Linked DNA regions of Homo sapiens. The protein of the gene in region 1 purifies or fractionates together with the protein of each later gene. This does not show direct contact. Each region holds a gene or a part of one and is shown in the gene's direction. Other genes may lie near its edges.

Evidence for each region.
Region 2: the proteins of HENMT1 (region 1) and PECR purify together in Homo sapiens (affinity purification with mass spectrometry; 2 studies listed by BioGRID and IntAct, with this or other methods). This does not show direct contact.
Region 3: the proteins of HENMT1 (region 1) and SBF1 purify together in Homo sapiens (affinity purification with mass spectrometry; 2 studies listed by BioGRID and IntAct, with this or other methods). This does not show direct contact.
Region 4: the proteins of HENMT1 (region 1) and KIF3A purify together in Homo sapiens (affinity purification with mass spectrometry; 2 studies listed by BioGRID and IntAct, with this or other methods). This does not show direct contact.

The regions. Positions count from the first base shown.
Region 1 is NC_000001.11:108,650,609-108,658,510, reverse strand, and holds part of HENMT1 (small RNA 2'-O-methyltransferase), read left to right. Parts: intron 1-931; coding exon 932-1,060; intron 1,061-2,812; coding exon 2,813-2,925; intron 2,926-3,660; coding exon 3,661-3,795; intron 3,796-7,301; coding exon 7,302-7,481; intron 7,482-7,902. UniProt on the Homo sapiens protein: Methyltransferase that adds a 2'-O-methyl group at the 3'-end of piRNAs, a class of 24 to 30 nucleotide RNAs that are generated by a Dicer-independent mechanism and are primarily derived from transposons and other repeated sequence elements.
Region 2 is NC_000002.12:216,043,438-216,051,339, reverse strand, and holds part of PECR (peroxisomal trans-2-enoyl-CoA reductase), read left to right. Parts: intron 1-1,966; coding exon 1,967-2,077; intron 2,078-7,324; coding exon 7,325-7,436; intron 7,437-7,902. UniProt on the Homo sapiens protein: Participates in chain elongation of fatty acids. Catalyzes the reduction of trans-2-enoyl-CoAs of varying chain lengths from 6:1 to 16:1, having maximum activity with 10:1 CoA. Has no 2,4-dienoyl-CoA reductase activity.
Region 3 is NC_000022.11:50,464,370-50,472,271, reverse strand, and holds part of SBF1 (myotubularin-related protein 5), read left to right. Parts: intron 1-3,810; coding exon 3,811-3,896; intron 3,897-4,348; coding exon 4,349-4,486; intron 4,487-4,578; coding exon of another isoform or gene 4,579-4,581; coding exon 4,582-4,740; intron 4,741-4,823; coding exon 4,824-4,934; intron 4,935-5,561; coding exon 5,562-5,667; intron 5,668-5,789; coding exon 5,790-5,922; intron 5,923-6,013; coding exon 6,014-6,122; intron 6,123-6,197; coding exon 6,198-6,311; intron 6,312-6,431; coding exon 6,432-6,509; intron 6,510-6,943; coding exon 6,944-7,057; intron 7,058-7,142; coding exon 7,143-7,271; intron 7,272-7,354; coding exon 7,355-7,453; intron 7,454-7,533; coding exon 7,534-7,738; intron 7,739-7,830; coding exon 7,831-7,902. UniProt on the Homo sapiens protein: Acts as an adapter for the phosphatase MTMR2 to regulate MTMR2 catalytic activity and subcellular location. Promotes the exchange of GDP to GTP, converting inactive GDP-bound Rab proteins into their active GTP-bound form.
Region 4 is NC_000005.10:132,727,236-132,735,137, reverse strand, and holds part of KIF3A (kinesin-like protein KIF3A), read left to right. Parts: intron 1-659; coding exon 660-933; intron 934-7,902. UniProt on the Homo sapiens protein: Microtubule-based anterograde translocator for membranous organelles. Plus end-directed microtubule sliding activity in vitro. Plays a role in primary cilia formation. Plays a role in centriole cohesion and subdistal appendage organization and function.

The DNA.
Region 1 (7,902 bases):
AGGATTGCTTGAGCCCAGGAATTTTAAACCAGCCTGGGCGACATAGTGAGATCCTCTCTCTCTCTTAAAAAGAGTGTTGGCTGGGTGTGGTGGCTTACACCTGTAATCCCAGCACTTTGGGAGGCCAAGGCGGGTGGATCACGAGGTCAGGAGTTCAAGAAGAGCCTGGCCAACATGGTGAAACCCGTCACTACTAAATACAAAAATTAGCCAGGCATGGTGGCGCATGCCTGTAATGTAATCCCAGCTACTCGGGAGGCTGAGGCAGGAGAATTGCTTGAATTGAGGGAGGCGGAGGTTGCAGTGAGCTGAGATCGCGCCACTGCACTCCAGCCTGGGTGACAGAGCAAGACTCCGTCTTGGGGGGAAAAAAAAAATATATATATATATATGTGTGTGTGTGTGTGTGTATATATGTGTGTGTGTGTGTGTGTGTGTGTACATATATATGTGTGTGTGTGTGTATATATATGTGTGTGTGTGTAAGTGTGTGTACATATATGTGTGTGTGTGTGTGTATATATATGTGTGTGTGTATATATATATAGTCAGTCATTATAAATATTTTCCAGCCTCCTGCCTACTTGGACCACAGGCTTTGGCGACTCACTCCACAAAAGGTCCCTTATGGTTAGGAGTCATCTAATTGTTTTCATTGAATACATTCATTGGTAATGTTCCCTTCAGCTGAAACTAAGCTATAGGGAGCATACAGCTAGATTCTCTCTTGTTAAAAGGCATGAGAGGATGCTTACATGAACTGTGGAGGAAATGCAGTGCTACCTAATGATTTTAGGACAAAGGGTATGTGAAGGCCAGTGTGTTTTTCAAAGTGATTGGGGGAAATAAAGTTTTTTTTTTTTTGCCCCTTATTTAATTTCTGAAGTCATGCATGATTTAGAACCTGTCTTTTTTTGTTTGTGAACTTCAGTGCAGTAGTGTGGTTGACGGTAATTTTGAAGAAGTTCCCAGGGAGACGGCAATTCAGTTTAAACCTCCACTATACAGACAGCGGTACCAGTTCGTTAAAAATTTAGTGGATCAACATGAGCCTAAGAAGGTAGGTATTTCTCTTTCCAAACATTTAATTATTAAGACTAGTAGACTAGTCATATGAGGTGTTTTGTCAAATGGATTAGTATGGAGAGACTTTTCACAGGGGTTATTGCAATAGGGAGAATGCCGTAACCACAAGATCTGCAGGTGTCTCAAGAGTTAAGCAAAAGGGGTTTTTCTTTTACTGGAGAAGTGAACAAAGCTAGAAACTAGGGAGGTGGGATGAGAGGGTGGTTTGAAAGGACAGTGGAATGGGGAGCCTTAAGGAGGGGGCTGTTTCCTCAGGCTGTAGTGCAGGGCCCTGGGGGAAGAAGTAAAGTTTGAATAAAGTATGGTTAAAAAAGGAATTTTCTTCCCATTGATCAGTGGGGACAAGTATTCATGATAATCATTTGAGGCAAAGAATGGAAACACAAGGAATCTTATCTAAGTTTTATGGAGGAGGGTGGTTTTTTGCAGTGAGCCCTTTCCTGGAACACAAAGCACAGGTGGATTCCTTTAGCAGATGCCAGAAACACAGGGCTCAGACAGAATTCAGCATTGTCAGGTTCAAATGTGAAGAAAATCTTAAGATTTTATAGTTGGATGTGATCTTGTAGGTACCGTACTTCTAGAGCATTTAGTTAGAATATCAGGCAAACTGGTATTGTAGCCACAGGTATTGTGGTTCTTTTAAAATTAGATGATAATGGGCCGGGTGCAATGGTTTACACCTGTAATTCCGGCACTTTGGGAGGCTGAGGCAGGTGGCTAGCTTGAGACCAGCCTGGCACCATAGTGAGACCCTGTGTCTACAAAAAATAAAATTAGCTGTGCATGGTGGTGCGTGCCTATAGTCCCAGTTACTCAGGAGGCTGAGGTGGGAGGATCCCTTGAGCCCAGGAGGTTGAGGCTGCAGTGAGCTGTTATCACCTGCATTCCAGCCTGGGCAACAGAGAAAGAGCCCGTCTCAAAAAGAAAATTAGATCATAATGAACCTACTCGGTTAACTTCAGAGTAAAGTCATAATTGCATATAATCTACATCCATCCATCCATACCTGGTTACTATACTAATGGATTGGATGTGAATTAGATGCGGGTAAGGTGAATTTCTAGATGAAAGCTTTCTTTTTCTGCTTGATGTTGAAGACTCAGTGAAGATTCCTGTGTGTGAAGGTTTCCCTTAACTCCACCACTACTGTTTCTACACTTGGACACAAAGGCGTAGGTATTAGTTTATATCTTTGTAGCCATCTAGGCATGTGTATTCAGGTAAAGCATCTAAAATTGGCTTTTTGGCAGCTCAGAGTTCAGTATGGAATTTCAGATGGTTTGAGGTAATTGTTTAATCAAATAAATGTGTGAGGGGTGAAAGCTAAGTTTTAGAAAGCTTTGTTTGCTGAAATATGCTGAGAATATTTGACTCCAAATTCTGATTCTGAATGGGAAAACTGTGTGTACGTAATTGTTTCTCATTAGTTCAATATAGACAATAACAGTTGTTCTGGAATAGGAATGGACCTTTCTATTTTAGTGTGATCAAATAGAAATTTGCCTATGGGCTTATAAAGTTTCAGGTTAGTGTGTGTGTGTGTGTGTGTGTGTGTGTGTGTGTGTGTGTGTGTAGCATCTTCTGCCAAAAAGATCCTTCCATATAATACTTTCATTATTTTATTACTGATATATACTCCACTCTCTCCTCCTCAAAAAAAAGTTTTTGATCATACTTCTCTTGCTATAAATGTCTTTGAAATAACATTCTGTCTCATCTACAGGTTGCAGACCTGGGATGTGGTGATACTTCACTCTTAAGGCTGCTAAAAGTCAATCCATGCATTGAATTGCTTGTTGGAGTAGATATTAATGAGGATAAATTACGATGGAGAGGGTAATACTTAGTTTCTGAAAGAATTATGCGTTAATCTAAAACTAATGGCATTATTGAGTTTAGAGAAAGTGTTGATTTTATATTTGTTTTAAAAGATTGGGGCCATTAGGGATCTTCAACTCACTGAATAATCAGGCTTTGCCATAACACTAAAAATACCTGCATTTTATTGCTACCAACTTAAAGAATAGCCTCAATTAAATGATTATAATAATCAAAGCATTGTAAATTAAAATTCAGATAGCAAAATCTCATCACTTTAATGCTGGACACTATGATAATTTATAGCAGAGGATTTAAAATGCCCCAGAACACTGAGGCCAAGGCTCCAGGCCACCGCCTGCATTTTGAACCATAGCATTTCTCCTATCTCTTGTATATATAGTATATATACATTAGATTTCCACAGATTGCTTCAAGAATATTCTTTTTCTAAAGAACAAAAATCTCAAAATCACTGAATCAAAGTAAGCTGGAAAACCAAAAGTATTACAAATGAAAACAATATAACAATATTAAATATTCAGTCTTTTTTTCATTGGCCAGTAACTTCCCACTGTGAGAGGAAGTTTCCCCATGACCTGGTCTTTAATATGTCAAGACAAGGAAAACAGGCTGTGTCAGACTTATATCAATAGAGGTAGAAGATAATTATCAGAGGATCTGAGTTCTGTAGCTGGTGAGAATTTTTAAATAGATAATGTTCAGAAAGTTTCTTCAATAATTATTTTGCAGGGATTCGTTAGCTCCTTTCCTGGGGGATTTTCTGAAACCTCGGGATCTGAATTTGACCATCACATTGTATCATGGCTCCGTTGTGGAGAGAGACTCTCGTTTGCTTGGATTTGACTTGATAACGTGTATTGAATTGTAAGTTTTAAACTGATACACTGTATAACTGTTCATTTGAAAAGCCTGAATAAGTCTCAGTGATCTTAGTGTCCTAAATATAATAGGTCTTGATTATTGTAAGGAAAACTGCTCATTGGTTGGGAATATCTTTTTACTCTGCTTTTCCAACATTTTACTTAGAAATTTCAAGTATACAGATAAATTGCCACAAATACATAGTACCAAGAATACCTATACCCCCCTTTATCCAGATGTTAACATCTCACTTTTTAAATCATTTGTACATTGCACCCTCCCTCTCCTGTTCACCCCTCCTCCATCTCCCTTTAGAGTTATTTTTTTTCCTGAATCAATTAAGGGTATACACATGGCCTTTTGCCTCTACTAAAAAATTCAGTTTAAAAGTTGGAGGCCTCACACTACTTGACTTGAAAATGTACTACAAAGCAGTAGTAATAAAAACATCGTGGTTCTGGTATAAAAACAGAGACATAGACCAATGGAACAGAATAGAGAGAACCCAGAAATAAATCCATGCATTTACAGCCAACTGATTTCAACAAAGACACCAAGAACATACATTGGCAAAAGGACACCCTCCTCAATAAATGGTACTGGGAAAACTGCATATCCATATGCAGAATGAAATTAGACTCCTATCTCTCACTGTATACAAGCATCAACTCAAGATGGATTAACGAGTTAATTGCAGACCTAAAACTATGAAAGTACTGGAAGAAAACAGGAAATGCTTCAGGACATTGGTCTAGGCAAAGATTTTGAGTAAGACTACAAAAGCACAGGCTACAAACAGAAATACACAAATGGGAATATATGAAACTGAAAGGTTTCTGCACAGCAAAGAATAGAGTGAACAGAACCTATAGAATGGGAGAAAATACTTGCAAAGTATTCATCAAGGGATTAATATCTAGAATATACAAGAATCTCAACAGCAAAAAAACCCCAAATAAAAAGTGGGCAAAGGACCTGAACAGATATTTCTCAAAAGACATACAGATGGTTAACAAGTAGATGAAAAAATGCTCAACATCACTAGTCATCAGGGAAATGCAACTCAACCACAGTGAGATATCTCACCCCATTTAGAATGGCTGTTATTAAAAAGACAGTAAATGCTGGCAAGGATGCAGAGAAAGGGAACTCATATAAACTGGTGTGAATGTAAATTAGTACAGCCGTTATTGAAAACAGTGTGGAGGTTTTTCAAAAAACTGAAAATAGAACTGCCATGTGATCTAGCAATCCCACTACTGGGTATTTATCCAAAGGAAAGAAATCAGTTATATTGAAGAGAGATGTGCACCCCAATGTTTATTAACAGCACAGTAGCCAGGATACGGAATCTACCTAAATGTCCATCAGTAGATGAATGGATAAAGAAAGTGTGGTATTTAGGCTGGGCATGGTGGCTCACGCCTGTAATCCCAGCACTTTGGGAGGCCGAGGCAGGTGGATCACCTGAGGTCAGGAGTTCAAGAGCAGCCTGGCCAACATGGTGAAACCCCGTCTCTAGTAAAAATACAAAAAAATTAGCTGGGCGTGATAATGGGCCCCTGTAATCCCAGCTACTTGGGAGGCTGAGGCAGGAGAATCACTTGAACCTTGGAGGCAGAGGTTGCAGTGAGCCAAGATCACGCCATTGCACAACGAGCAAAACTCCGTCTCAAAAAAAAAAAAGGGATGTATATGCACAATGGAATACTATTCAGCCCTAAAAAAGGAATGAAATTGTCATGGATGAACCTGGAGGGCATTAAGTGAAATAAGTCAGGCATAGAAACACTGTTGCCTGGGCTGGAGTGCAATGGCGCGATCTCGGCTCACTGCAACCTCTGCCTCCTGGGTTCAAGTGATTCTTTTGCCTCAGCCTCCCGAGCAGCTGGGATTACAGGTGCCTGCCACCACACCTGGCTAATTTTTTGTATTTTTAGTAGAGATGGGGTTTCACCCTATTGGCCAGGCTGGTCTTGAACCCCTGACCTCGTAATCTGCCCACCTCGGCCTCCCAAAGTGCTGGTATTACAGGCGTGAGCCACTGTGCCTGGCTGGTTTACAATTTTCTTGTGAATTGCATAGAAGCTCAGCCCTCTGTGAAGCATTTTTGTCAATGTCTAGTTTGCTTAGGACACACTGACTTAGATGGGATGGCAGCAAGACTTTGTCAGACCCGGTTTTGGTAACATTTAATTGTTATATAATTGCAAATTTACAGAAGTTGCAGGAATGGTCCAAGGAATTCTCATCTGTTCTTTACCTAGATTTACCACTTATTTATATTTGATCCTATTTACTGTGTCTTTTTCCCTAAATATAACTTTCTACGTGTATTTTTTATCTGAACCATCTCAGAGTAGGTTGGATACACTGTGTCCTGTTACCCTAGATACCTTGGTATGTATATTCTGAGAACAAAGACTTCTTACCATAACCATGTAATTCTATCAGGAAATTGAACATTGATACAGTACGATTACCTAATCTAAGTCCACATTCAGCATTCATCATTTGTTCCAGTAATGTCTTTCTATAGCTATTTTAAAATTTAGCTATAATTTAAAATGGCCCAAGATCACACAATGCATTTGTCACGTTTGCCTGGGCTCCTTTAATCTGAAGCAGGTCTGTGCAGCCTTTCTGCCTGGTCCTATTTGCCCTTGATATTTCTGAAGAATATGTGCTATTTTCTAGAATGTCGCTGTATCTGAGTGTCTCCTCATTATCAGATTCAGGGCATGCATTTTTGACAAGAATATCATAGAAGTGATTTTGTCCTCCTTGATGCATTATATCAGGGAGGTATAACCTCAGAGACTTTTTTTTAGAGGTATTGATAATGAGGCCATAGAGCACAGCAAAGGACCTTGGTTGGATAAGGGAGCCATCATAGATGGAGTTGGGGGGTAGGAAAGGATGAGAATATATGAATAATTGTTCTTTTTCCCCCTCCCCTCCCCTCCCTTCCCCTCTCTTCTCTTCTCTCTCTTTCTCTTTCTTTCTGTCTGTCTCTCTCTCTTTCTTTTCTTTCTTTCCTTCCTTCCTTCCTTCTTTCTTTTTCTTCTATCTTTCTTGACTGAGTTTTGCTTGTCACCCAGGCTGGAGAGCAATGGTGCAATCTTGGCTTGCTGCAACCTCTGCCTCCTGGGTTCAAGTGATTCTCCCGCCTCAGCCTCCCGAGTAGCTGGGATTACAGGCATGCACCACCACACCCAGCAAAATTTTGTATTTTTAGTAGAGACAAGGTTTCATCATGTTGGCCGGGCTGGTCTTTAACTCTTGACCTTGGGTGATCCATCCACCTTGGCCTCCCAAAGTGTTGGGATTACAGGCGTGAGCCACTGTGCCTGGCCCGAATAATTGTTCTTAGGTCATATAAGCATTATTACATATTCAAAGAAGGGAGAAATCGATACACAGATGGAAATTGTTTTTGATAAATCAATTAGAAAAATAGGTGCAAGTGAAGCTAGATTTTATTATGTCTTTCTCATTAACCATTTTAGAATAGAACATTTGGATTCAGGTGATCTGGCCAGATTTCCTGAAGTGGTATTTGGGTACCTGTCTCCATCCATGATTGTCATCAGCACACCAAACTCTGAATTCAATCCCCTGTTTCCATCAGTGACCTTAAGAGATTCAGATCATAAATTTGAGTGGACCAGAATGGAGTTTCAGACCTGGTAAGTTCAGAAGGGTTTTTGTTTATTTGGGATCCTGTTGGAGTTTAAAATCTTAGGAAATAAATATTGATATACATACATTACCTAAATTGTTTTGTACTTTCTTCCAATAAAATTGATTCCAATGTGTGACTTAGTATGTAATAAGATCACAAAGGAACCATTGCATTTGGGCAAGTGTGGAAAGGGGGTGTGGTTACTGGGCACCTTTTATGTGAAGGCATCTGTAGTACTGGCATGGAGATGAGGAACAAAACAGAGGGAAGGTTTGGGACAGTGAGAATGAGCCTCATGCCCCTCCCCGGGATATCTCCTGAGGCTTAGTCATGTTTTCTGGTGTAATTGCAAACCCAAATGGGTAGTTGGGTTGAGCACTTGTTGCCTCCTTGTCCACCCCTACACCCTGCCCATAATTTTCCTT
Region 2 (7,902 bases), on another chromosome or scaffold:
CTTTAAAACATAGATAAAATGGAAAGCCTAATTTTCTTTTTTTTTTTTTTTTTTTTTTGAGATGGAGTCTCTGTCGCCCAGGCCGGAGTGCAGTGGCATGATCGTGGCTCACTATAACTTCCACCTCCAAGGCTCAAGTGATTCTTGTGCCTCAGCCTCCTAAGTAGCTGGGACTACAGGCACAAGCCACCATGCCCAGCTAATTTTTTGGATTTTAGTAGAGATGGGTTTTCACCATATTGCCCTGGGTGGTCTCGAACTCCTGAGCTCAGGAGATCTGTTCGCCATGGCCTCTCAAAGTGCTGGGATTACAGATGTGAGCCACCGCACCCGGCCCAGAAGGTCTAATTATCATTATGGAAGTACTCTTTGATTTACAGCCAGATTGTCAAGAATGTTAAACCAGTGATTCTTGATTCTGGCTTTTTTTTTTTTTTTTTAGAAGGAGTCTTGCTCTGTTGCCCAGGCTGGAGAGCAGTGGCGTGATCTTGGCTCACTGCAACCTCTGCCTCCTGGGTTCAAGTGATTCTCCTGCCTCAGCCTCCCAAGTAGCTGGGACTACAGGCACCTGCCACCACCCCTGGCTAATTTTTGTATTTTTAGTAGAGACGGGGTTTCACTGTGTTAGCCAGCGTGGTCTCGATCTCCTGACTTCGTGATCCACCCACGTCTGCCTCCCAAAGTACTGGGATTACAGGCGTGAGCCACTGCGCCCAGCCTATCTATAGATCTTATCTCTGTAATATCAGTAGGTGTTATCTGTGCCACTCAATGAAGACTATGCATGACTGACTTCAAGCATGAAGTTAGTAATCTCATCTCTGACAAAGGTGTTGCTACTAATATTAATTCATGTTTGCCTTCCAGAGACTTTTTTGGTTAAATGATCAAATTTTAATACTTCTAGATTTTATCCTCTTTAAATAAAAGGCAACATATTATGTAATTGGAAACCAATATATCTCTCCAGTATCAGTATCATTTGAAGTTATTAAAACTGCCACATTTTCTAATTTTATTTTAACTTCTCTTTCCGCCCCTTCTCTCCATAATTCAACAGTTTGAATCCATTACAAATAGCTGTATCCTGTGAGATACAATTTTTTTTTTAAATGTTTGAGACAAGGTCTTGCTGTGTTGCCTAGGCTGAAGTGCGGTAGTGCGATCACGGCTCACTGCAGCCTCGAACTCCTGGGCGCAAGCGATCCTCCCAACTCAGCCTCCTGAGTAGCTGGGACCACAGGCAGGTACCACCATGCCCAGCTAATTCTTTTTTATATTTTTTGTAGAGACATAGTCTCCCTATTTTGCCCAGGCTGGTCTCAAACTCCTAGGCTCACACAATCCTCCAGCTTCACCCTCGCAAAGTGCTGGGATTACAGGCATGAGCCACTGCACCTGGCCTGGGATACAGTTTTTGAGTAATTTTCCTGACCTTAGAAAGCCAGTGAAAGATACATTTAAAAATTCCTAAACAATGAAAAATTTAGTTTATTGGTATTGGACTCAAATGCTTTATTTGCGATTTCAATCTAGGTAAAAAGCCAAGAAAATATTGCATTTTTCTAAGTCTCACGTAGCCATTGCCCAGTCTTCTCTTGTAAAGCAGAGAAGCCAAATGGAAACTAAAATAGACAGAGTCCCCTGTCCCATTGTTCCCAGTTAAGTGCCTCTTTCATTTACTTACACAATCATGACCTTCAGAAAACAAGTCTTTCATGAAAAAATCCAGGGCATGGTTAGGAGGAAGAGGAGGTCACAAAATAACTATTCAGATCATCCATTTGTGGATGGTGGGGACTGTACTTCTTTGACAACATGGAGGAAATTTAATATCAGCACTGTTAACTTTTTTTTGACTTAAGCTACTTAATGTTTGAAATGCCAGTAGAGTATCTTGATATCTTTATAATTAAAATTTAATATAATACACTTTATTTTGTCCCTGTTTTATTTTTAAACACAGGGAGTTATTTATTCCCAGACTGCTGTGGAGAACTATGGTTCCTGGGGACAAAGCTTCTTTGAAGGGTCTTTTCAGAAAATCCCCGCTAAACGAATTGGTGTTCCTGAGGAGGTAAGGTATATTTCCAGCATTGATTAGAATTGCTGTGTGTTATACTTTGGAATTTGTAATTCAGTGTCATTTTTATGCGGTCTGGACGACATTATTTCTCCCACTGCCAGCAGAACATTTCCCCTGTTCTTTCTGGCTGTCAGGGATATTCTGGTTGTGCTTTGGCTACTGACAGCAATCTGTACTTGAGAGTGAATGTGGTATAAATTAATAACAGCATTTTTTTTGTTAGTTTGTTTTACTGTATTTTCAGCTACATTATTTTATTACATGGCATTTGTTGGTACACAGGACCCTAAGCAAATTAGACAACTATGGCCATATGAAGTTCCACATGAGATTTCGGTTAAGGTTGAAGTCTGTAAAATCAGCAGCTTTCCAAACTGCCAGCAGCGGTTTTTTTTTTTTTTTTTTTTTTTGCTTGAGACAGTGTTTCACTCTGTTACAGGCTAAGTATAGTGTCACGATCATAGCTCACTGCAGGCTTGAACTCCCACCTTGGCCTCCCAAAGTGCTGGGATGATGATGATGACGATGATGAAGACGATGACTTTTTTGACAGAGTCTCTTTGTTGCCCAGGCTGGAGTGCAGTGGCGCGATCTTGGCCCACTGGAACTTCCACCTCCTGGGTTCAAGCAATTCTCCTGCCCCAGCCTCCCGAGTAGCTGGAATTACAGATGTATGCCACCACACCTGACTGATTTTTGTGTTTTTAGTAGAGGCGAAGTTTCACCATGTTGGCTAGGCTAGTCTCGAACTACTGACCTTAAGTGATACGCCCACCTCAGCCTCCTAAAGTGCTGGGATTACATGTGTGAGCCGCCACACCTAGCTTTGCATCAGTCTTGAAATGCAATTTTTTTTTTTTTTTTTTTTTAAGAAAACAAGGCCAGGCGCAGTGGCTCATGCCTGTAATCCCAGCACTTTGGGAGGCCGAGGCAGGCGGATCACGAGTTCAGAAGATCGAGACCATCCTGGCTAACACGGTGAAACCCCGCCTCTACTAAAAATACAAAAAAATTACCCGGGTGTGGTGGCGGACACCTGTAGTCCCAGCTACTGGGGAGGCTGAGGCAGGAGAATGGTGTGAACCCGGGAGGCGGAGCTTGCAGTGAGCTGAGATTGCACCACTGCACTCCAGCCTGGGCGACAGAGCAAGACTCTATCTCAAAAAATAAAATAAAATAAAATAAAGAAAAGAAAAGGATGTCTTTCCCACAATAATAAAAATGAAAATAACTAGTAGTAAACTTACCTCTAAATGAAAAAAAAAAAAAATCACCTGCCTCCTTAGGGCAGTAGGCAGTGCATCAGTTTCATAAATGAAAAAAACAAAACAAAACAAAAAAACCCCTTTTTCTGTGAAGCAGCAAAAAGACCAGATTAGGGGCATATAATATTCCTTGATGGGGAGAACCAATTTTATTAAAAAGTCAGGTTTCCCTAAATTATAAATTTAATATCTTTTGGGAATTTAACACGCTGATTCTATCAAAAATATGTATGCAAAAATTGCCAAAAATGTTTTGAAAATGAATAATGGGAGGATTACCCTTCATGGTATAATGAAACCATGAAGCTATATTTATTTATGTACTGTGTATTTACATACTATGAAGCTGTATTTATTTACAGCATCTGGTGCTGGTAATGAAACATATTAAAAATAGTAGAACAGAACAGATTCTTGAATTGGAACCATATGTGGGAGTTTATGGAGTCAAAGTAGCATTTCAATCTGTAAGGAAAGGATAAAACACTCAGCAAAGTGTTGGGGGCATTTGGCCGTTTAGTAATAAATTAGACTCCCTATCCTGTATTATATACAAAATAACTTTCAGATTTATTGAAGTGATAATTATAAAAGCAAGCCCATGAAACTCTTTAAAAGAGTTATCATGCTTAGAACTAGCTTTTATTATCAGTTTGGTGAATGTCTTTCCAGAAATGTACTTTGCATGCATTAAAAATTTGTATTTGTTGACTTTTTTTTTTTTTTTCCTGAGACGAAGTTACACTCTTCTTGCCCAGGCTGGAGTGCGGTGGCACGATCTCGGCTCACCACAACCTCTACCTCCTGGGTTTAAGCGATTCTCCTGCCTCAGCCTTCAGAGTAGCTGGGATTACAGGCATGCGCCACCACACCTGGCTAGTTTTGTAGAGACAGGGTTTCTTCATGCTGGTCAGGCTGGTCTTGAACTCCTGACCTCAGGTGATCCACCTGCCTCAACCTCCCAAAGTGCTGGGATTATAGGCGTGAACTACCACGCCTGGCCTATTTATTGACTTTTTTACGAAAACAGAATTTACTCTGTGTTATTTTCTGAAACTTGTTATGGGTATACTATAATATCATCAAATCCCATTATGATTTGGATTTTATTTATATTTTTGTTCTTGCAGTAATTCTGCAATGAACATTATGAATATAATCATGTACTCTTGGGTGAGGGGATATGTTTCTAGAAACAGAGTTCCTGAACCAAAATAGACTTGCATTGTATTTTGGAAGATACTGTTAAATCAAACATTTGATGAGCCATGTTAACCAAGGTCTTTGGATTTGTATTCTGAAAACTAAGAGTAATATTTAATGAATTTTAATCAAGGCAATTATATTACATTTTTATTTTTGATAGAATACTTTGGGAGGCTAGGCACAGTGGCTCACACCTGTAATCCCAACACTTTGGAAGCCTAAGGCAGGTGGATCACTTGAGGTAGGAGTTCAAGATCAGCCTGGCCAACATGGCGAAACCCCGTCTATACTAAAAAATACAAAAATTAGCCAAGCATGGTGGCATATGCCTGTAGTCCCAGTTACCTGGGAGGCTGAAGCAGGACAATTGCTTGAACCCGGGACACGGAGGTTGCAGTGAGCAGAGATTGCGCCACTGCACTCCAGCCTGGGTGACAGTGAGACGCCTTCTCAAAAAAAAAAAAAAAAAAAATATATATATATATATATGTATGTATATATATATACTTTATGTGGTTTACATTATCTATATTTGCTGTATTAGAAATTAAAACCAAAATTTAAGAAATATTATTAATTCATTTTAAAATAGTAATAAAGGAGTACATGTTAACATAAATAACATTTACTTTAAAATAGCTACATTTAAAAAAAGAAACAAAAACTTTTTTTTTTTTTTTTGGTTCAAGCGATTCTCCTGCCTCAGCCTCCTGAGTAGCTGGGATTAACAGTCATGCACCAGCATGCCCAGCTAATTTTTGTATTTTTAGTAGAGACAGTGTTTCACTAAGCTGGCCATGCTGGTTCGAATTCCTGGCCTCAGGTGATCCACCTGCCTCGGCCTCCCAAAATGCTGGGATTACAGGCGTGAGCCACCGCGTCTGGCCGGTTTTTTGTGTTTTTGAGGGAGTGTGGTTTACAGATTGTTAGAGGTTGTGACTACTTGGGTGGGATGGTTGTTGTCTGGATGGCATTTCAGAAAGGAGCTCATTGGAGCAAGTCTCTTTTTGATGCGCTGACTTTAACAAACATGTTCATTGGCTGAGTTGTCACTACTGGATCAAACAGGGTTAAAACCAGCTCTGTTGCTTGTTACCATGTCTCAGTACAATCTGCCTTTTCACAGTAATGTGGGACCTTTTAAATAGTGAATTCTATACCAGCCCTGTCCAGTAGAAATATACTAATAGTCACATTTGTAATTTTAAACTTACCAGGAGCCACATAAAGTAAAAAGAGGTGAAATTAATTTTAATAATATATTTGACTTAGCCTAATACATCCAAAACATCGTCATTTCAACATGTAATCAACATGGAAAATTGAGATGATTTTCTTCATCCCTCGGAGCATCCAGGATTAATGAGATATTTTACATTATTTTTCCCATACTCAGTCTTCAAAATCCAGTGTGTGTTCTATACTTACAGCACGTCTCAATTTGGACCAGTCATACTGAAAGTGTTTGAGTAGGCGACTATGTCTAATGGCCTCGTTTTAGATAGTGCAGCACTGTACTAGCTGCTGGGAATACAAGGATGGAGAGAAGGCTTGGCTGCTCTCCAAGCTCTTAGAGTCTCAAGGAGGTATAGCCTTGTGAATATAGGACCAGGACTGGGATGAGGCAAGCAAGGCATGGACACAAAATTTAAGGACCCACTCCCTCTGAGGGAAGATTTTGCACTTGTGCAAACCTGAGAGTGAATACCTCCTTAAATCTTGCACCCTCGACACCTTATTTGCCTCACCCTAGTCCTGGCCCTGCCTGGGGGCCTTTTAAACTGCAGATTCTGGGACCCCAACCCCAGAGCTTACAATTGCAATGATCCTGGAAGGATCTAGGAATCTGAAGTCTCAGTAAGCATCCCTAGTGATTCTAATGCAGGTGTTTTGGATCATCACCCTTTGAGAAACTCTGCTTCTTCCCACAGCCTCAAGTGAGAGCTCCTTTACAAGTCAGTGAAATAACTTCCTTCTGTTTGGGTTGGGAGTAGATGTTGCTGAACTCATCAGTTCCCTATTTGAATTTTTAAGGAGTACAGTGGGAGTCTGAAGTGCCTTTGGTTTATTTTTATTTTTATTTTTTTGAAATGGAGTCTCACTCTGCCACCCAAGCTGGAATGTAGTGGTGCAGTCTTGGCTCACTGCAACCTCTTAGGCCCACGCAATGCTCCCACCTCAGCCTCCTAAGGAGCTGGGACCACAGGTGCCCGCCACTGTGCCTGGCTAAGTTTTTGAAGTTCCTCTTGTAGAGAGCTCCTTTGAATGTGTGTTGCTGGGCTTTTGGCCTGACAGGACCGCAGACTGAACAAACCAGAATGCTAGTTTATTGCTAAACAGACACATTGACTATTTCAGGGACCAAAACATAAAAGGCACGAGGTAGTGATGGAAAATGGGGTTGTGGAGGACAATGAAAGGCATGGAAGGAAGTGAATTGTTTGAAATGGGAAAGAGCAGAGCTGAAGCACTGAGTTCACTTATGGCTTCTTGACGTCATGTAGCTTGCTTGACATCGTCTAAGGCTCCCTCATACCTTGCCACCTTTACCCTAGTCACCTACCTGATTTCGGTGATGCTCAGGTAGAAAGGGAAATTGTAGGAAAAGGAAGTTGTCTATGTACTGTGAGGTTGTGGTGCACATGCACACACTGTTGGATTCATGTTACAATCATGGGCTTTGAGATGCCTTTACTGGGGAATGTGAGGCGGTTAGAAATGGGGAGTATTTGCTTTTACCTATGCACATGTGTGTTTCTGTTTCCAGGTCTCCTCTGTGGTCTGCTTCCTACTGTCTCCTGCAGCTTCCTTCATCACTGGACAGTCGGTGGATGTGGATGGGGGCCGGAGTCTCTATACTCACTCGTATGAGGTACCAGGTGAGCAGCTGAGGAATGAGCAGTCACCAGCTTTATGCTGTGTCATGTTCAGGGGTTTAAAATTTATTATAAGTAGTTACTTAAGAGATGAGGGTGCTCTCTTATAGAACATCAAAATGTACAAAATGTTTATATTCATGATGTGATTTTTTTAATGAAATATTCCTAGTCACAGAAAATATCTAACTATCTATATTATGGAACTGAGCTTTTTGTGCATGCATAGGTTGGTGGAATTTGAACCCTGAAAAATATTCTCAGTATATGTTTCGAAAGAGGAGACAGAAAAGAGGCAAGAGCATGCTATAGTTTTAAAGATTTAATTCCATTTTGTTCCTCCAGTAAATGGCTTACATATCTGAGCAGAAGAATCAGGCCTGCTAGGTGGGGTGGGGTGCTATGGTGCTATTTTGTGCTCTCTTTGAGATATATATTGAATGAAGGCATATGAAATTTCTGTATTCAT
Region 3 (7,902 bases), on another chromosome or scaffold:
TTGCTAGTGGTTACCAGCTGGAAACCTCTCAGGAAAGGTGGGGAGGGGCCCTGAGAAGGTAAATGCCTGTGCTGGCCGTGACCCTTTCACCTCAGAGAGTGATGGTGGCCAGCGCTGGCCCATCTGCAGGCCCCTCACCTGGTGAGTCAGGGATCACCTTCTGTGCTCTGGGGCAGGCATCAGGACTAGACAGACTGCCTCTGCCCGGCTCTTGGCCTGATCACAGCGTGGCCAGTGCTGAGGTGTCTTTGAGAACAGGAGACACATTTGATCTGGCCCTGACCTGGCCATCGGCCTTCCATCTCCAGCAGCTGAGTGTGCATCTGCCTGGGAGGAGGGGCTGGACCCCTTGGATCTGAGAAAAAGACCTTTCACCCTATGGCCTCGCCTCTCCTCCTGACTGTGATGTGCTGGCTGCATTCTTGAGCCCCATCTACTGTCCCCACCCACGTTCCTGCCCTCCCTCTGGAGCGGGTTGGGGCTGTTTGGGATGGCCTCAACTGCCTCCCAGCCTCCACCCTGGGAGCCGGAAGGGGTCCAAGGCCTTGGGTCAGAACTGCTCAGGTCTGATGGGCAGGGGAGGTTGGGGGGGATGGCTGTGGAAGCTGCAGGGGCCCTGCGCATGGCCTGCTGCTGCGGCCGAGGGAGCCATGTGCACGTTGGGGTTGGGTGGGTGGCGTAGCAGGAAGGTGCTGTCCTTCCTTCTTTTCTCTTTTCCTATAGCTGGGTTCCCCACAAGCAGCAGAGCCGGCCAGGGCTGGTCTTCGTGCACTGTGGGGAGTGTGGTGGGGAAACAGGAGAGGCTGCCATCCTTCTTTGCCTCCCCACAGCACACGCTGGCCTGGGCCAGCCCTCCAGGCGTCAGAGCCTGGCACTGATGATGGGGTGCTGCCAGCAGATGACAGAACGCGAGGTCTGTGTTCGCCTGCCCGCCCGCCCGCCTTTCAGGCCTGCCGTCTGCGTGGGGCTGGCCGCAGGGACATTGGTGCAGGAGGGAGTGCTCTTTGAGGGGCTTTCAGGACAGAAGCCCCAGTGTTGTCCTTAGGTGGCCCCCTCAGCCCCATGTTCAGAGGTGGAGGTGGCAAGGAAACCTTGGTGCCCAGTGCCACCCAGCACACCGTTTGGATTCGTCCTGTTGCCAAGGGGAGGAGTGGGGAGGGCACCCTCCCTCCTGTGTATTCTGAGGTAAAGGCAGCACTCTGATGGGCAAGGAGCTCAGCTGCTGGAGGTCACTCCTATGGCAATAGAGCTTCAGTGGGTGGGGGACCCTGGGAAGATGTGGCAAAACCCCCCACATCCCCCTGGAGGCCAAGATGTGGCCTGGCCCCGGACAGCACAGAGCTGAGGTGCAGGCTGGGACCTCAGAAGGGTGAGGAGGAGAGCTGCTCACAGCTGAGGGCTGCAGGGCCCTCCATGGCCTGCCTTTCCAGGGGCCAGCTGTGTTCTGTCATTCCCTGGGGCTCCGGAAGGTGCCCTGTACTTCCGACTGAGGAACCTGTTTGCTTGTTGGGTGTGGGGAGGATGGTTGTGTAGCCGACTGTACGTGTTCTACAAGCCCTAATTAGCCTGTGGTCCGTCCCAGCCAAGCCAACAGGTGCACTAGCAGTCACTGGGGTGTGGTGGAGGGAGGTCGGTCCTAGGGTCCCTGTAGGCCCCAGGCTGGGGCAGAGTTTCCCAGGGGAGGGGGTGCTCTGTGGGCTGAGACCTGAAGGGCCAGTCTGGGGCTGTCATGGCACAGAGGAGCTCAGGGAGAGGTGCCTGCTTGGCCTGGCCCACTTGGGCCATTGGGCCAGCCCAAGGAGAGTGGAGCTCAGGGCTGGCTCTTTGGAGGGTAGAGCCCTGCAGAGGACTTAAGGCTGAGTGAGAGTTGATGCTTCACAAGACTAGCGGGGGGTGGAGAGGGTCAAGGTAGATGGTGACCTGCCACTCTGCCCATCCTCCTGGGGAAGGCTGCCTTCCCTTCCTGGCCTTGGGGAGGCTGCAGTGCAGAGACTGCTGTCCCTGTTCATAAACCCCTCTTCCTTCCTCCACCTGCTGCCTCGTGGCAAGAACTGGGTGAGCCCTGGGTGCCAGCCAGGGCTGGGCCCAGATGGTGGTTTGGGGCCAAACACAAGGAGGCCTTTGGGGGAGTGGGCGGGGTGGGGGAGGAGCCGCAGCTCAGGGCCTGCGCCTGAGTGAGCTGTCCTTGGGGGTGTGGAGGTAGGTGTGGCACCCGCAGACACCTGGGCCCCCACCCGTCTGCCGCCTGTCCTCTGCAGGGTGTCGGTGGGAGGGGGAGGGGAGCAGGAAGCTGAGGTTTTGTGAGTCAGAATCGGCCCCTCACCGCCCCACCATCTCCCACTTAGCAGCAGCCTGCCCACTGCCGACTTCCTTGGCTCTGCCCCTGTAACCCTGGAGGGCAGATGGTCTCCCCGCCTGTAGGGGACCCGTGGAGTGTGTGCCATTGGGCTGCCAGAGTTGCTCATCTGTTCCCAGGAGGACCAGGCATGCTGGATGTGGGGCTGCAGCTTCTTGGGGGCCGGGGTGGGGGGTCCATGAGGGGCTCTGTGTTGAGCATGACCCCCGCCTTGCCCATCTGGCTCTGCTGCTTCCGCCAGGTGGGTGGCGGTGTAGAGGCCCGTCCAGACAGAGGATGGGCCCTGGGGACCTGCGGTTTGTGTGGAGGAGAAGGCAGGCAGGCTTTCGTCTTTCCTGCTGCACCTGCTCCATCCTCCACAAGCCCTGGGAGGCCTGCGGAGCCGTCCTGCTGCGGGAGCCACACCCTGAGTGTCCCACTGTGGTCCCCACCGGGCTTCCTGGTTTGGCTCTCCAGGGGTGAGCCACAGGCAGGGACCTTTACCCCACCGGTGTGGACTGGGCCTGGAAACAGGGCCCTGGATGTGGTAGTTCTGGGGCCCCACGGAGAGGAGGGGTCTGGTGGGGAGACATAGGCCTCTTGGCTCTCCCTGCCCTGAAAGCCCTCCTCCTGGCCCAGGGGAGCTTAGGCTGTGCTCAGCACCCATCCTATGGCCTTTGTACAGGGAGATTTGGAGACAGGGAGCAGGCCTGGGTGTGACCACCGTCCCACTCTCCTCTGAGAGCTGCTGGGGTCCAGGTGCTCAGGAAGCCATCTGGGCATCCTTCGGTGGTCGTCCTGGACCAAGTCTCCATCCTTCCCGTCTAGCTGCTGCCCCTCTAGGTCCTGCTGGCTGTGGGGCTGGTGTTCTAACAGGGAGCTGCCAAACCCCATCTTCTGGGACCTGTACTGGGGACTTGTCTGTCTCTGAAGCAGCTGGGATAGGGAAGAGTTTGGGGCTGTGGGCGCAGGGGGTGTCCTCTAGCCTTGTGGGGCTGAGGCTTCTTGAACCCCACACAGACAGCAGGTTTGAGTCCTCCACACCCCCGGCTGGGTCCAGGGCTGGTGGGTGACAGGGAGCTCTGGGGGATGCCCACTGTTGGGGGGCCGAGAGCCTAAGTGGGGGCCTGGCGGTGGTGGCAGATGCTGTGGGGGCCTGTGGAACAGTCCCGAAGTGTTGACCTTCGATGGAGGGCTGCTGTGCTGTGTGAAGCTGGGCTGGTCAGGCTGAAGGAGGTCTCTGGGGTGGGATCGGAGAATGGGGTGTAGCGGCAGGGGCTTCTCTACCCTCAGGTGGCCCTGGGGTCTGCAGCTGTCAAGCAGACTCTCCATACGGAGCTATTTTTAGGGAGCTGTGGCTGATCTGGTGCCAGATGAGGGCCCAGTGGGTGGGAATGTTTCCACCCTGGGATCCTCAAGCCTCCTGGTGGGTGGGGGGCGGGTTGGGTGCTCTGACCCCCTGTTCTTGTCCTCAGGGAGTGGGGAAGGCCAGGGCCAGATTCTGCAGCGCTTCCCAGAGAAGGACTGGGAGGACAACCCATTCCCCCAGGGCATCGAGCTGGTGAGTTGGGGGCGTGCTGAGACGGTGCTGGCAGGTGGGGAGGGCAGGTGGGCACAGCCCTGCCCTTGTCCCTGACTGAGGGGCCTCCACAGTGCCCGGCCCCCCGCTGGGCTAGGGACAAGACAGCAGAGCCTCTGTCGGGGGGTTTGACCGGCTTGGCCGGCGGCCTGTGCGGTGCTCATGTCACTGTGTCATGTTGTCACTCACTCATGATGGTGGGGACTGTTCTCCCATCTCCTGGTCCTTGCCCCAGGTGGGGAGGTCAGAGGCTGTTACTCCCTTCACCCGGAGAGACTGAGGCCCAGGAGGCCACGTGTCCCCAGGGTCTCCAAGCAAGGAGCTGCCTGTGTGTGTTGGAGCCTCCAGGCCTGGTGGTGCAGATGCTGGGGCGGGTGGGCTGGTTCCTGCCACAGGTGTAGGGGGAGGAGCTGACTGCTGAGCCTTCCCTGCAGTTTTGCCAGCCCAGCGGGTGGCAGCTGTGTCCCGAGAGGAATCCACCGACCTTCTTTGTTGCTGTCCTCACCGACATCAACTCCGAGCGCCACTACTGCGCCTGCTTGACCTTCTGGGAGCCAGCGGAGCCTTCACAGGTCAGCTTGGGGCCTCTGGGTACAGCATGAATGAAGCTGCATCCTTGGGCCGTGGCCAACTCCCCCTGCCCCCGTCTCCCCCTGACCCCCAGCAGGAAACGACGCGCGTGGAGGATGCCACAGAGAGGGAGGAAGAGGGGGATGAGGGAGGCCAGACCCACCTGTCTCCCACAGCACCTGCCCCATCTGCCCAGCTGTTTGCACCGAAGACGCTGGTACTGGTGTCGCGACTCGACCACACGGAGGTGTTCAGGGTGAGGCCGGCAGCCGGGGCGGCGAGGCACGACGAGGGTGCTTCCATCGGCTGTCCCACCACTCCCCGCTCTGGTCATTGCAGAACAGCCTTGGCCTCATCTATGCCATCCACGTGGAGGGCCTGAATGTGTGCCTGGAGAACGTGATTGGGAACCTGCTGACGTGCACTGTGCCCCTGGCTGGGGGCTCGCAGGTGAGTTTTGGAGGCAGCTGGTATCTGCACAGCCACAGGCCCTCCTGCTGGGGCCCTGGTAGGTATTTGGAGCCCAGCCAGAGCCACACACAGCTGGAGGCCTTGGATGCTCCCTCTTGCGTCCTCGTGCCACCATTGCCCCCAACAGTCCTGGCCTGCTTACCTGGCCCTCGCACCTGTGCTCTGGGCCTGTGTCGTTCAGCCTCTCTGTCCACTCCTTTGATGGTGTGTGCCTGTCTCTGGATGTTGATGTCAGCTTGTTTGTCTGCTCCCTGCCCTGTGCCTGGGTGTGTTGGAGTGTCTAACCGTGTCTTTCTGCCCGTCTGTCCTGTGCAGCTGGACTCTGTTGAGGAAGGAGCGGTATGGATTCTTTGTTTCTTCCGCCCACCTAGGCCCCATCCCTACCCCCAAGTCAAAAGCAGCCACTCCTGTCCTGAGTTTTCTCTGCAGCTGCTTGGGACAACAGAGGCAGGGCATGGCGTTTCCCTCTTGCCATGTTGCCCATCCCAGCCAGTCCCACCTCGGGTCTGTCAGTACACCAGGGTCTGCCTGGGGACACAGAGCTCTGGGCTGACTCTGGGCTGGCTCTGGCCAAACTACTGAGCCCCGATCCTTTTTTTGCTGCAGAGGACGATCTCTTTGGGGGCTGGTGACCGGCAGGTCATCCAGACTCCACTGGCCGACTCGCTGCCCGTCAGCCGCTGCAGCGTGGCCCTGCTCTTCCGCCAGCTAGGTGAGCCTGTCTGTCCCACCCCCGCATGGCTTCCCCTCGGGGACTGGTAGTTAGGGATGTGGGTTCTCACTCTGCCTGGGTGGGGGCCCAGGGTCCTCTCCAAGCTTCTCTTCTTCCTTTAGGCATCACCAACGTGCTGTCTTTGTTCTGTGCCGCCCTCACGGAGCACAAGGTTCTCTTCCTGTCCCGGAGCTACCAGCGGCTCGCCGATGCCTGTAGGGGCCTCCTGGCACTGCTGTTTCCTCTCAGATACAGGTGACCCCTGCCCGGCCCTCCCAGCCCCTTCTCCTGGCCCCTTTGCCCAGCCGCGTCCCCTGGCTCACTGCATCCTCTGGGGCCTGCACAGCTTCACCTATGTGCCCATCCTGCCGGCTCAGCTGCTGGAGGTCCTCAGCACACCCACGCCCTTCATCATTGGGGTCAACGCGGCCTTCCAGGCAGAGACCCAGGAGCTGGTAAGGGCTGTGCTTTGTGTCCACCTCACGGCCCAGGCCTGCAGGTCCCTGACTGCCGGCTCCCTTGGTCCGCAGCTCGATGTGATTGTTGCTGATCTGGATGGAGGGACGGTCACCATTCCTGAGTGTGTGCACATTCCACCCTTGCCAGAGCCACTGCAGAGTCAGACGCACAGTGTGCTGAGCATGGTGAGGGGCACCATGGGCAAGCGGGAGCCTTGGGGGCCTTTGGGATGTGGCTACCTGGCAGCACGGGGAGCCTAGAGCCGGGGCCAGCGTGCAGCTGCCTGCTCCATTCTGTGCTGGCAGGTCCTGGACCCGGAGCTGGAGTTGGCTGACCTCGCCTTCCCTCCGCCCACGACATCCACCTCCTCCCTGAAGATGCAGGTGGGGGTCGTTGCTGCTCCTGCATGGGGACCCCAGGCACTTAGGCTGCCCCCACTCAGGTCTGCTGCCACTGACACACAGGGCCCCACCCCCAGGCTGGCCCCGGCTCCAGTAGCAGAAGCAGGAGCCTGGGAGCAAAGCAGCTGCCAGCAGTTAGGAGTGGTGGTCGTGAGTGGTGCAGGCGAGGCGGCAGGGGCCCAGCAAGGGGCTGGAACTTGGCGTCTGATCACAGGAGCCCTTGAGGGTGCTGAGCCAGGAGTGCCTTGTCCAGACAGTTTCAGAGGAGCTGGTGGCCCTGAGTGCAGAATGGTGGGAGGGGCAGAAGGATGGGAGCGGGGCAGCTTGGGGTGGGTTGGGGTGTGGAGAAGCTCCTGGGCAGCCTGGGGTGGGGATTGGCAGGACTGGCTCTCACCTGCACTCAGCTCTTCTCCCAGGACAAGGAGCTGCGCGCGGTCTTCCTGCGGCTGTTCGCTCAGCTGCTGCAGGGCTATCGCTGGTGCCTGCACGTCGTGCGCATCCACCCGGAGCCTGTCATCCGCTTCCATAAGGTGGGGTGCCTGGTGGCTGGGCGTGGGGTAGGAGATAAGCGCATGGTGGAGACCCCTGAGGGACCGACCTCCTTCTGTCATCCAGGCAGCCTTCCTGGGCCAGCGTGGGCTGGTAGAGGACGATTTCCTGATGAAGGTGCTGGAGGGCATGGCCTTTGCTGGCTTTGTGTCAGAGCGTGGGGTCCCATACCGCCCTACGGACCTGTTCGATGAGGTGCACCTCCACCCTGCCCTCCCAGCCCCCTGCCCTGGCTCCGCCTGACCATGGCTTACCTAACCTCCTGCTTACCCCGCTAGCTGGTGGCCCACGAGGTGGCAAGGATGCGGGCGGATGAGAACCACCCCCAGCGTGTCCTGCGTCACGTCCAGGAACTGGCAGAGCAGCTCTACAAGAACGTACGAGGGTAGCAGGACGGGAGGGCGTCGTACCGCCTTGATCCCTGGGCCCCTGCCCCACACCTGCCGTCTCCCCACAGGAGAACCCGTACCCAGCCGTGGCGATGCACAAGGTACAGAGGCCCGGTGAGAGCAGCCACCTGCGACGGGTGCCCCGACCCTTCCCCCGGCTGGATGAGGGCACCGTGCAGTGGATCGTGGACCAGGCTGCAGCCAAGATGCAGGGTGCACCCCCAGCTGTGAAGGCCGAGAGGAGGACCACCGTGCCCTCAGGGCCCCCCATGAGTGCGTAATGAGGGAGGGGAAGGCAGGCCCCGAGCGTGGCCCAGGATGGGCGTGGGGTCAGGGGTCCGAGTGTGTGTATTCTGTCCCCGCAGCTGCCATACTGGAGCGGTGCAGTGGGCTGCATGTCAACAGCGCCCGGCGGCTGGAGGTTGTGCGCAACTGCA
Region 4 (7,902 bases), on another chromosome or scaffold:
ACGCCACTGCACTCCAGCCTGGGTGACAGGGTGAGACTGTGCCTCATAAATAAGAAAAAAAAAATTCAGAAATGGAAACTTTACATATACAAATGCTTATAAGGTTAGGTAATACTAAGGCATTTTTCTTTGCCATTAGACTTTCATTTCTGTCTTTATCTTATTATTGTTTTCTGTAGAGAAGATAAGCCATATATGGATATATTACATGATAAAAACCATTTTACAGATGCGTGATAGGAAATAAAACTAAAGTCTCAGGGGAAACAAAGGACCTACTATTTTCTTGAGTTAAAGTTGTTAACCATGTTCACATGTGTTTTCCTACAGGCAGGAAACGCTGGGTCAGAGACTTTTGTGCAAAAAGATGATCTATAATATACTGGTTCAGTTTCTGCTTGTACAGCCTTTGCCACAAATGTGAACTAGCTCTTCTCTCCCTTTTACATTTTAAAAGAAACGATTTTCCTTTTTGTATCTTTTAATAAACTTTTCAGCTATATGTAAGATCTTTAATTGCATTTAACAAATACCTGTGAAGTGTTTAATGTGTGCAAGGCACTGAGTTGGAAAAGTAGCCTTTTAAAGTTTATAAATTTAATCTGATGAGGGTAAAAATTAATGTTCTTTTCATTATTTGTAAATATTATCTCCAACAGATCAATAAATCAGAGAAGCCAGAAAGCTGCGATAATGTGAAGGTTGTTGTTAGGTGCCGGCCCCTCAATGAGAGAGAGAAATCAATGTGCTACAAACAGGCTGTCAGTGTGGATGAGATGAGGGGAACTATCACTGTACATAAGACTGATTCTTCCAATGAACCTCCAAAGACATTTACTTTTGATACTGTTTTTGGACCAGAGAGTAAACAACTTGATGTTTATAACTTAACTGCAAGACCTATTATTGATTCTGTACTTGAAGGCTACAATGGTAAGTGAATCTTTACTTTTTAAAAAACTCCCTTATTGAGACATAATTACTGTGCCATAAATTCACATATTGCAGCTGTGCAGTTTGATGAGTGTAGTAAATATATACAGTTGTGAAACCATCATCACAATCCAGCTTTAGAACACCCTTGTCATCCTCAAAATTTCCTTTATGCCCATTTGCAGACCCACCCCCAAGCAACTATTGATCTGCTTTCTGTCACTATAATTTTGCCTTTTCTTGAAATGTCATATAAATGATGTCATATAATATGTCACCTTTTTTATCTGTTTTCTTTCACATCAAATAATGTTTTTGAAGTTTATCCTGCTAGGATTTTCATAGGGATTGTGTTGAATTGTCATTCTGACAATATTGAGTCTTCAGTCCATGAACATGATACTTCTCTTCATTTAAAACGTTGAAACATTAATGAATTATGGACAGGGTCTTGCTCTGTTGCCCAGGCTGGAGTGCAGTGGTGCAGTCATAGCTTACTGCAGCCTTGAACCTGGGCTGAAGCTATCCTCTCACTTCTGCCTCCTGAGTAATGAGAACTACAGCTGTGCGCCACCACACCTGGCTCATTTTTTTGTTTTTGTAAAGACTGGGTCTTGCTGTGTTGCTCAGTCAGGTCTTGAACTCCTAGGCTCAAGCAATCTCCTACTGAGGCCTTTCAAAGCCCTGGGATTTCCCATGTCAGCTACCATGTCCAGCTTCTCTCCATTTATTTATATCTTAATTTCTCTCATCTGTATTTTGTAGCTTTTAGTGTACAAGTATTGCACTTGTTTTGATTAATTTATTCCTAAGTATTTTTTTGATGCTATTGTGAATAGGATTGCTTTCATAATTTCAATTTTGGATTGTGTGTTACTAATATATAGAGATGAAATTGATTTCTTTAGGTAGCTTTTGTGATAAAATTCAAATATCAAATTTATGATTTTAACCATTTTACACTTTATAGTTCATAGGTACATTTACAATGTCGTACAGCTGTCACCGCTGTCTGTTTCCAGAACATTTCTATCACTCCAAAAAGAAACCCTGTATCCATTAGCAGTCAGTCACTCCCAATCCATTACCACCTCCCTTCCCCCAACCCAGCAACTACTAATTTACTGTCTATATCTATTCTATGAGTTTGCCTATTCTGGACATTTTCTATAAATGGAATTATATGCTATGTGGCCTTTTGTGAATAACTTCTTTCACTTACAGTGTTTTCAAGCTTCATCCCTATTGTAACATATAAACATATATCAGCAATTCATTACTTTTTTTTTTTTTTTGGAGACGGAGTCTTGCTCTGTCGCCCAGGCTGGATTGCAGTGGCGTGATCTTGGCTCACTGCAACTTCTGCCTCCTGGGTTCAAGCGATTCTCCTGCCTCAGCCTCCTGAGTAGCTGGGACTACAGGCGCCCGCCAACACACCCAGCTAATTTTTTGTGTTTTTAGTAGAGACGGGGTTTCACCGTGTTAGCCAGGATGGTCTTGATCTCCTGACCTTGTGATCCGCCTGTCTCAGCCTCTGAAAGTGCTGGGATTACAGGCGTGAGCCACTGCACCTGGCTGATTTTTGTATTTTTAGTAGAGACGGGGTTTCACCATATTGGCCAGGCTGGTTTTGAACTCCTGATCTTGTGATCCACCCGCCTCGGCCTCCCAAAGTGCTGAGATTACAGGCGTGAGCCATTGCACTAGGCCAGCAATTCATTATTTTTTATGTCTGAATAATATTGTATAGATATATCATATTTTGTTTATCCATTTATTAGTTGGTGAACATTTGTTGTTTCTACTTTTTAGCTATTACAGATAATGTTACTTTGAACATTCTTTTACAGATTTTTGTGTGAACATATGTTTAGTTTCTCTTGGGTATATACCTAAGAGTGGAATTACTAGGTCACATGGTAACTTTGTTTAATGTTTTGAGGAGCTGCCAAACTTTTCTACAGTAGCTACACCATTTTATATTCCCATCAGCAATGTGTGAGGTTTCTGATTTCTTCACATCTTTGCCAGCACTTGTTACTGTCTTTTTGATGACTGCCCTCTTAGTACCCACAGTTGATTTTTGTATATTGACCTTGTATCCTGAAACTTTGCTAAACTTATTAATTCTAGTAGTTTTTTTATGTTTTGGGTTTTTTGTAAATTTTGTAGGATTTTCTACTTGTAAGAATATGTTGGCCAGGCACAGTGGCTCACGCCTGTAATCCCAGCACATTGGAGGCCGAGGCAGGCAGATCACGAGGTCGGGAGTTCGAGACTAGCCTGACCAACATGGTGAAACCCTGTCTCTACTAAAAATAAAAAAATTAGCCAGGCATGGTGGCACGTGCCTGTAATCCCAGCTACTCGGGAGGCTGGGGCAGGAGAATCGCCTGAACCTCGGAGGCGGAGGTTGCAGTGAACCAAGATCGTGCCATTGCACTCCAGCCTGGGTGACAGGGCAAGACTCTGTCTCAAAAAAAAAAAAAAATGTTGTTTGCAAGTAAAGACAGTTTTTACTTTGTCCTTTCCAATCTCCTTTAATTTATTTTTGTTACCTGATAGCACCTGGAGGCTAGAACCTCCAGTAAATTAGAAGTGGTGAGAGTGGACATTTTGGTCTTGTTCCTGATCTTAGGGAAAATGCATTCATTCTTTCACCAGTATGATGATGTCTGTAAATTTTAACAGATATCCTTTGTAGGTTTGAGGAAGTTCCCTTCTATTCTTAGTTCGCTGAGAGTTTTTGGATTGTATATTGGATTTTGTCAAATGTAATTTTTTTTCTGCACCTATTGAAATAATCTTTTTTTTTAAGGTTTGTTAATATGGTCAATTACATTGATTGATTTTTGAATGTGAAACTAGCTTTGCCACTTGGTCATGATGCATTATTCTGTTCATATATTGTTAGATTTATTTGCTAAATTAAAAAAATTTTGGCATCCATGTTCATGAGGGATGTAAGTATATAGTTTTCTTCTAATGCATTTTTCTGGTTTGGGTATTGTGATAATGCTAGTTTCATAGAATGGGTTAGAAAGTATCCCCTTCTTTTCAGTTTTCTAGAAGAATTTGTCTAGAATTGGTATTATTTCTTAAATGTTTGGTAGAATTCATCAGTGAAGCCATCTGGGCTTGAAGTTTTCTTTGTGGGAAGGTTTTCAACTATTGATTCAATTTCTTTAATAGACATAAGACTATTCAGATTATGTATTTTTTCTTTTTCTCTTTAAATCAGGGTCTCACTCTGTTACCCAGGCTGGAGTACAGTGGCACAATCACAGCTCACTGCAGCCTCGACTTCCTGGCCTTAAGCAATCCTCCCACCTCAGCCTCCCCAGTAGCTGAGGCTACAGGTGTGTGCTACCACGCCTGGCTAATTTTTTCTATTATTATTATTTTTTTCTTGAAACAGGGTCTCACTCTGTCGACCAGGCTGGAGTGCAGTGGTGTGATCATGGCTCACTTAGCGTCTACCTCCCGGGCTCAAGCGATCCTCCCACTTCAGCCCCCTGAGTAGGTGGGACTATATGTGTGTGCCACCGCACCATGCCCAGCTAATTTTAATTTTTTTTTGGTAGAGATAAGGGTCTCACTATGTTTTCTAAGCTGGTCTTGAACTCCTGGACTCAACCAGTCCTCCCACCTCAGCCTTGCAAAGCACTGGGATTACAGACATGAGCTACCGTGCCCGGCCAGGTTATCTATTTTTTCTTTTTTTTTTTTTCTTTTTTTGAGACAGAGTCTTGCTCTGTTGCCCAGGCTGGAGTGCAGTGGCGCGATCTCGGCTCACTGTCTCCTCTGCTTCCCCGGGTTCCAGCGATTCTCTCGCCTCAGCCACCTGGGTAGCTGGGATTACAGGCACACGCCACCATGCCTGGCTCATTTTTGTAGTTTTAGTAGGGACGGGTTTCACCGTATTGGCCAGGCTGGTCTCAAACTACTGACCTCAGGTGATCCGCCTGCCTTGGCCTCCCGGAGTGCTGGGATTACAGGCGTGAGCCACCGTGCCCAGCCAGTTTTTTCTTAAGTGAGGTTTGGTAGCTTGTCTTTCACGGAATTAGTCCGTTTCATCTAAGTTGTCAAATTCATTGGCAAAAGGTTGTTTATACTATTCCCTTATTATTCTTTTAGTATGTTGAATGTAGTGGTATAACTTTTCTCATTTTTGATATTGGTAACTTACGTCTTTTCTTTTTTTCCTGATTAGTCTGACTAGAGGTTTATCTTATCGATCTTCTCAGAGAACCAGCTTTTGGTTTTATTAATTTTTCTTTCTGTTTTTATGTTTCCTATTTCATCTATTTCTGCTCTGATCTTTATTTTTTTTTCTTACTTACTTTGGGCTTAATTTCCTCTTTTCTTTCTACTTAAAGTGGAAGCTGAGGCCATGGTTTGAGACCTTTTTTCCTTTCTAATATGGGAGTTTAATGCTATAAATTGCCACTGAGTACTGTTTTAGTGTCATCCCACAGATTTTGACATACTATGTTTTCATTTTCATGTAGTTCAAAATACTATTTTACCTCCTGATTTATTCTTTGATCCTGGGTTATTTAGAAATGTGTTATTTAGTTTCCAAATATTTTTAAATTCTCTAGAGATTTTTGGTTATTGGTTTCTAATTTAATCTCAATTTAGAGAACATATTTTTTATGGCTTGAATGTTTTTAAATTTATTAAGACTTGTTTTATGACCCAGAATATAGTTTTGTTGTTGTTGTTGTTTTCTGTTTGTTTTGTTTTTTTCAAGACAAGGTCTCACCCTGTCACCCAGGCTGGGGTGCAGTGGCACTATAACGGCTCATTGCAGCCTCAGCCTCCTGGACTCAAGTGATTCTCTCGCTTCAGCCTTCCCAGTAGCTGAGACTACAGGAGCATCCCACCATGTCTGGCTAATTTTTTTTTAAATTTAGTTTTAATTTCAATAAGTTTTTGGGGAACAGGTGGTGTTTAGTTACATGAATAAGTTCTTCAGTGGTGATTTCTGAGATTTTGGTGCACCCATCACCCAAGCAGTGTACACTGTACCCAATGTGTAGTCTTTTATCTCTCACTCGCCTCCCACTCTTTCCCCTGAGTTCCCAAAGTCCGCTGTATCGTTCTTACGCCTTTGCACCCTCCTAGCTTAGCTCCTACTTGTAAGTGAGAACATACGATGTTTGATTTTCTGTTCCTGAGTTACTTCTCTTAGAATAATAGTCTCTAGTTCCATCCAGGTTGCTGCCAGTGCCATTATTTTGTTCCTTTTTATGCATGCCTGGCTAATTTTTAAAATTTTTTGTAGAGATGGGGTCTCACTGTGTTGCCTAGGTGTTGCCTAGCTGGTCTTGAACTCCTGGGCTCAGGTGATTCTCCCACCTCAGCCTCTCAAAGTGCTGGGACTATAGCAGGAGCCACGGCACCCAGCCCAGAATATAGTTTATTATATTTATTTATTTATTTATTTATTTATTGTATTTTTTGAGACAGAGTCTCACTCTGTCACCCTGGCTGGAGTGCAATGGTGCGATCTTGGCTCACTGCAGCCTTCGCCTCCCAGGTTCAAGCAATTCTTGTGCTTCACCTTCCCGAGTAGCTGGGACTACAGGCATGTGCCACCACACCCAGCTAATTTTTGTATTTTTAGTAGAGGTGGAGATTCACCATGTTGGCCAGGCTGGACTCAAACTCCTGACCTCAAGTGATCTGCCCTCCTTGGCCTCCCCAAAGTTCTGGGATTACAGGCATGAGCCACCCCGCCTGGCCATAGTTTATTATCTTTAAATAATAGTAATAATAATAAATAGTGCCTATTTTTTAGGATTGGGGTGAAAGTTAAATAAGAATGCAAACATAGCTGGGAGGTGCACCTGTAATCCCAGCTATTTACAGGTGGATTACAGGCAGGAGGATTCTCCTGAGCCCAGGAGTTTGAGGCTGCAGTGAGCTATGATCGTGCCACTGCTCTCTAGTCTGAGTGACAGGGCAAGACCTCATCTCTTAAAAAAAAAGCATGTAAAGTACATGACCTAGCACATAGCAAATGATCAGTAAGTGACAGCTGATGTCCTTATAAAGCTTATTTTTTATTTAATAATTTAATGTGTCTATTCTGAAATGCAGTCTATGAGCTCATGATATTTTCTGCTTCAAGTGCAGTGTTATATTCCTAATAGCAGAGTTTGAAATACTTAGTCAGTTTGAAAAAATTAAGACTTTTTTATTCCCATGTGTAAAAAATGGCTTCTGGTATGATTCATTTATTTTCACGGAAAAGTCTGAAAAGTGTGTTATGATTATTTTCACAAAAAAAAGTCTGAGAAAAGTTGAGGTTAACTGAATAGAGTAGTATTAGTTGAGGAACCGTTTTCATATATGCCATCACATCCAAGGCTATCTTTTCTTACTACACTGTGTCCTGACCAACTACTCCAGCCCTCTGTTTCCCCACATCGACCCTTGGTTTTCTCCAATTCTTCATCCACAATATAGCCATAGTGATCATGATGTCACTCCTCTGATTGAAAAATCATTCTATGGCTTCATGTTGCTTTTAGGATAAGGTCTAAAAAGTTTAATACCGTCCTTATTATACTGTGTGATTATGGCATTGTCAGTTTCTCTAGCTCTGCCTGCATCCATCTTCCCTTTCCATCTCTGTTTCTTCCATTCTGGTCTCATTTCAGTCCTCAAAATTTCCATTCTTTTTCTTGGCTCTTGCTGTCCACACTGTTCCTATCTGATTCTTACTTGTATTTCAGATCTAAACCTTACCTCTTCTGGAAAGTCCTCCCTGACCCCCTCTCCTTTTTCCCATTACAATTCCTGTGCCTAGTTGATGTCCCTGACTCCCATCTAGAACTCCCTGTTTCTCATTCTGAATACTCATCATCATGATAAACCCAAGATTATACACATCATAAGATTAGGGATTGTGTTTGTCTTGTCACTGTGTCTCTAGTGCCTAGCACAATGCCAAACTCA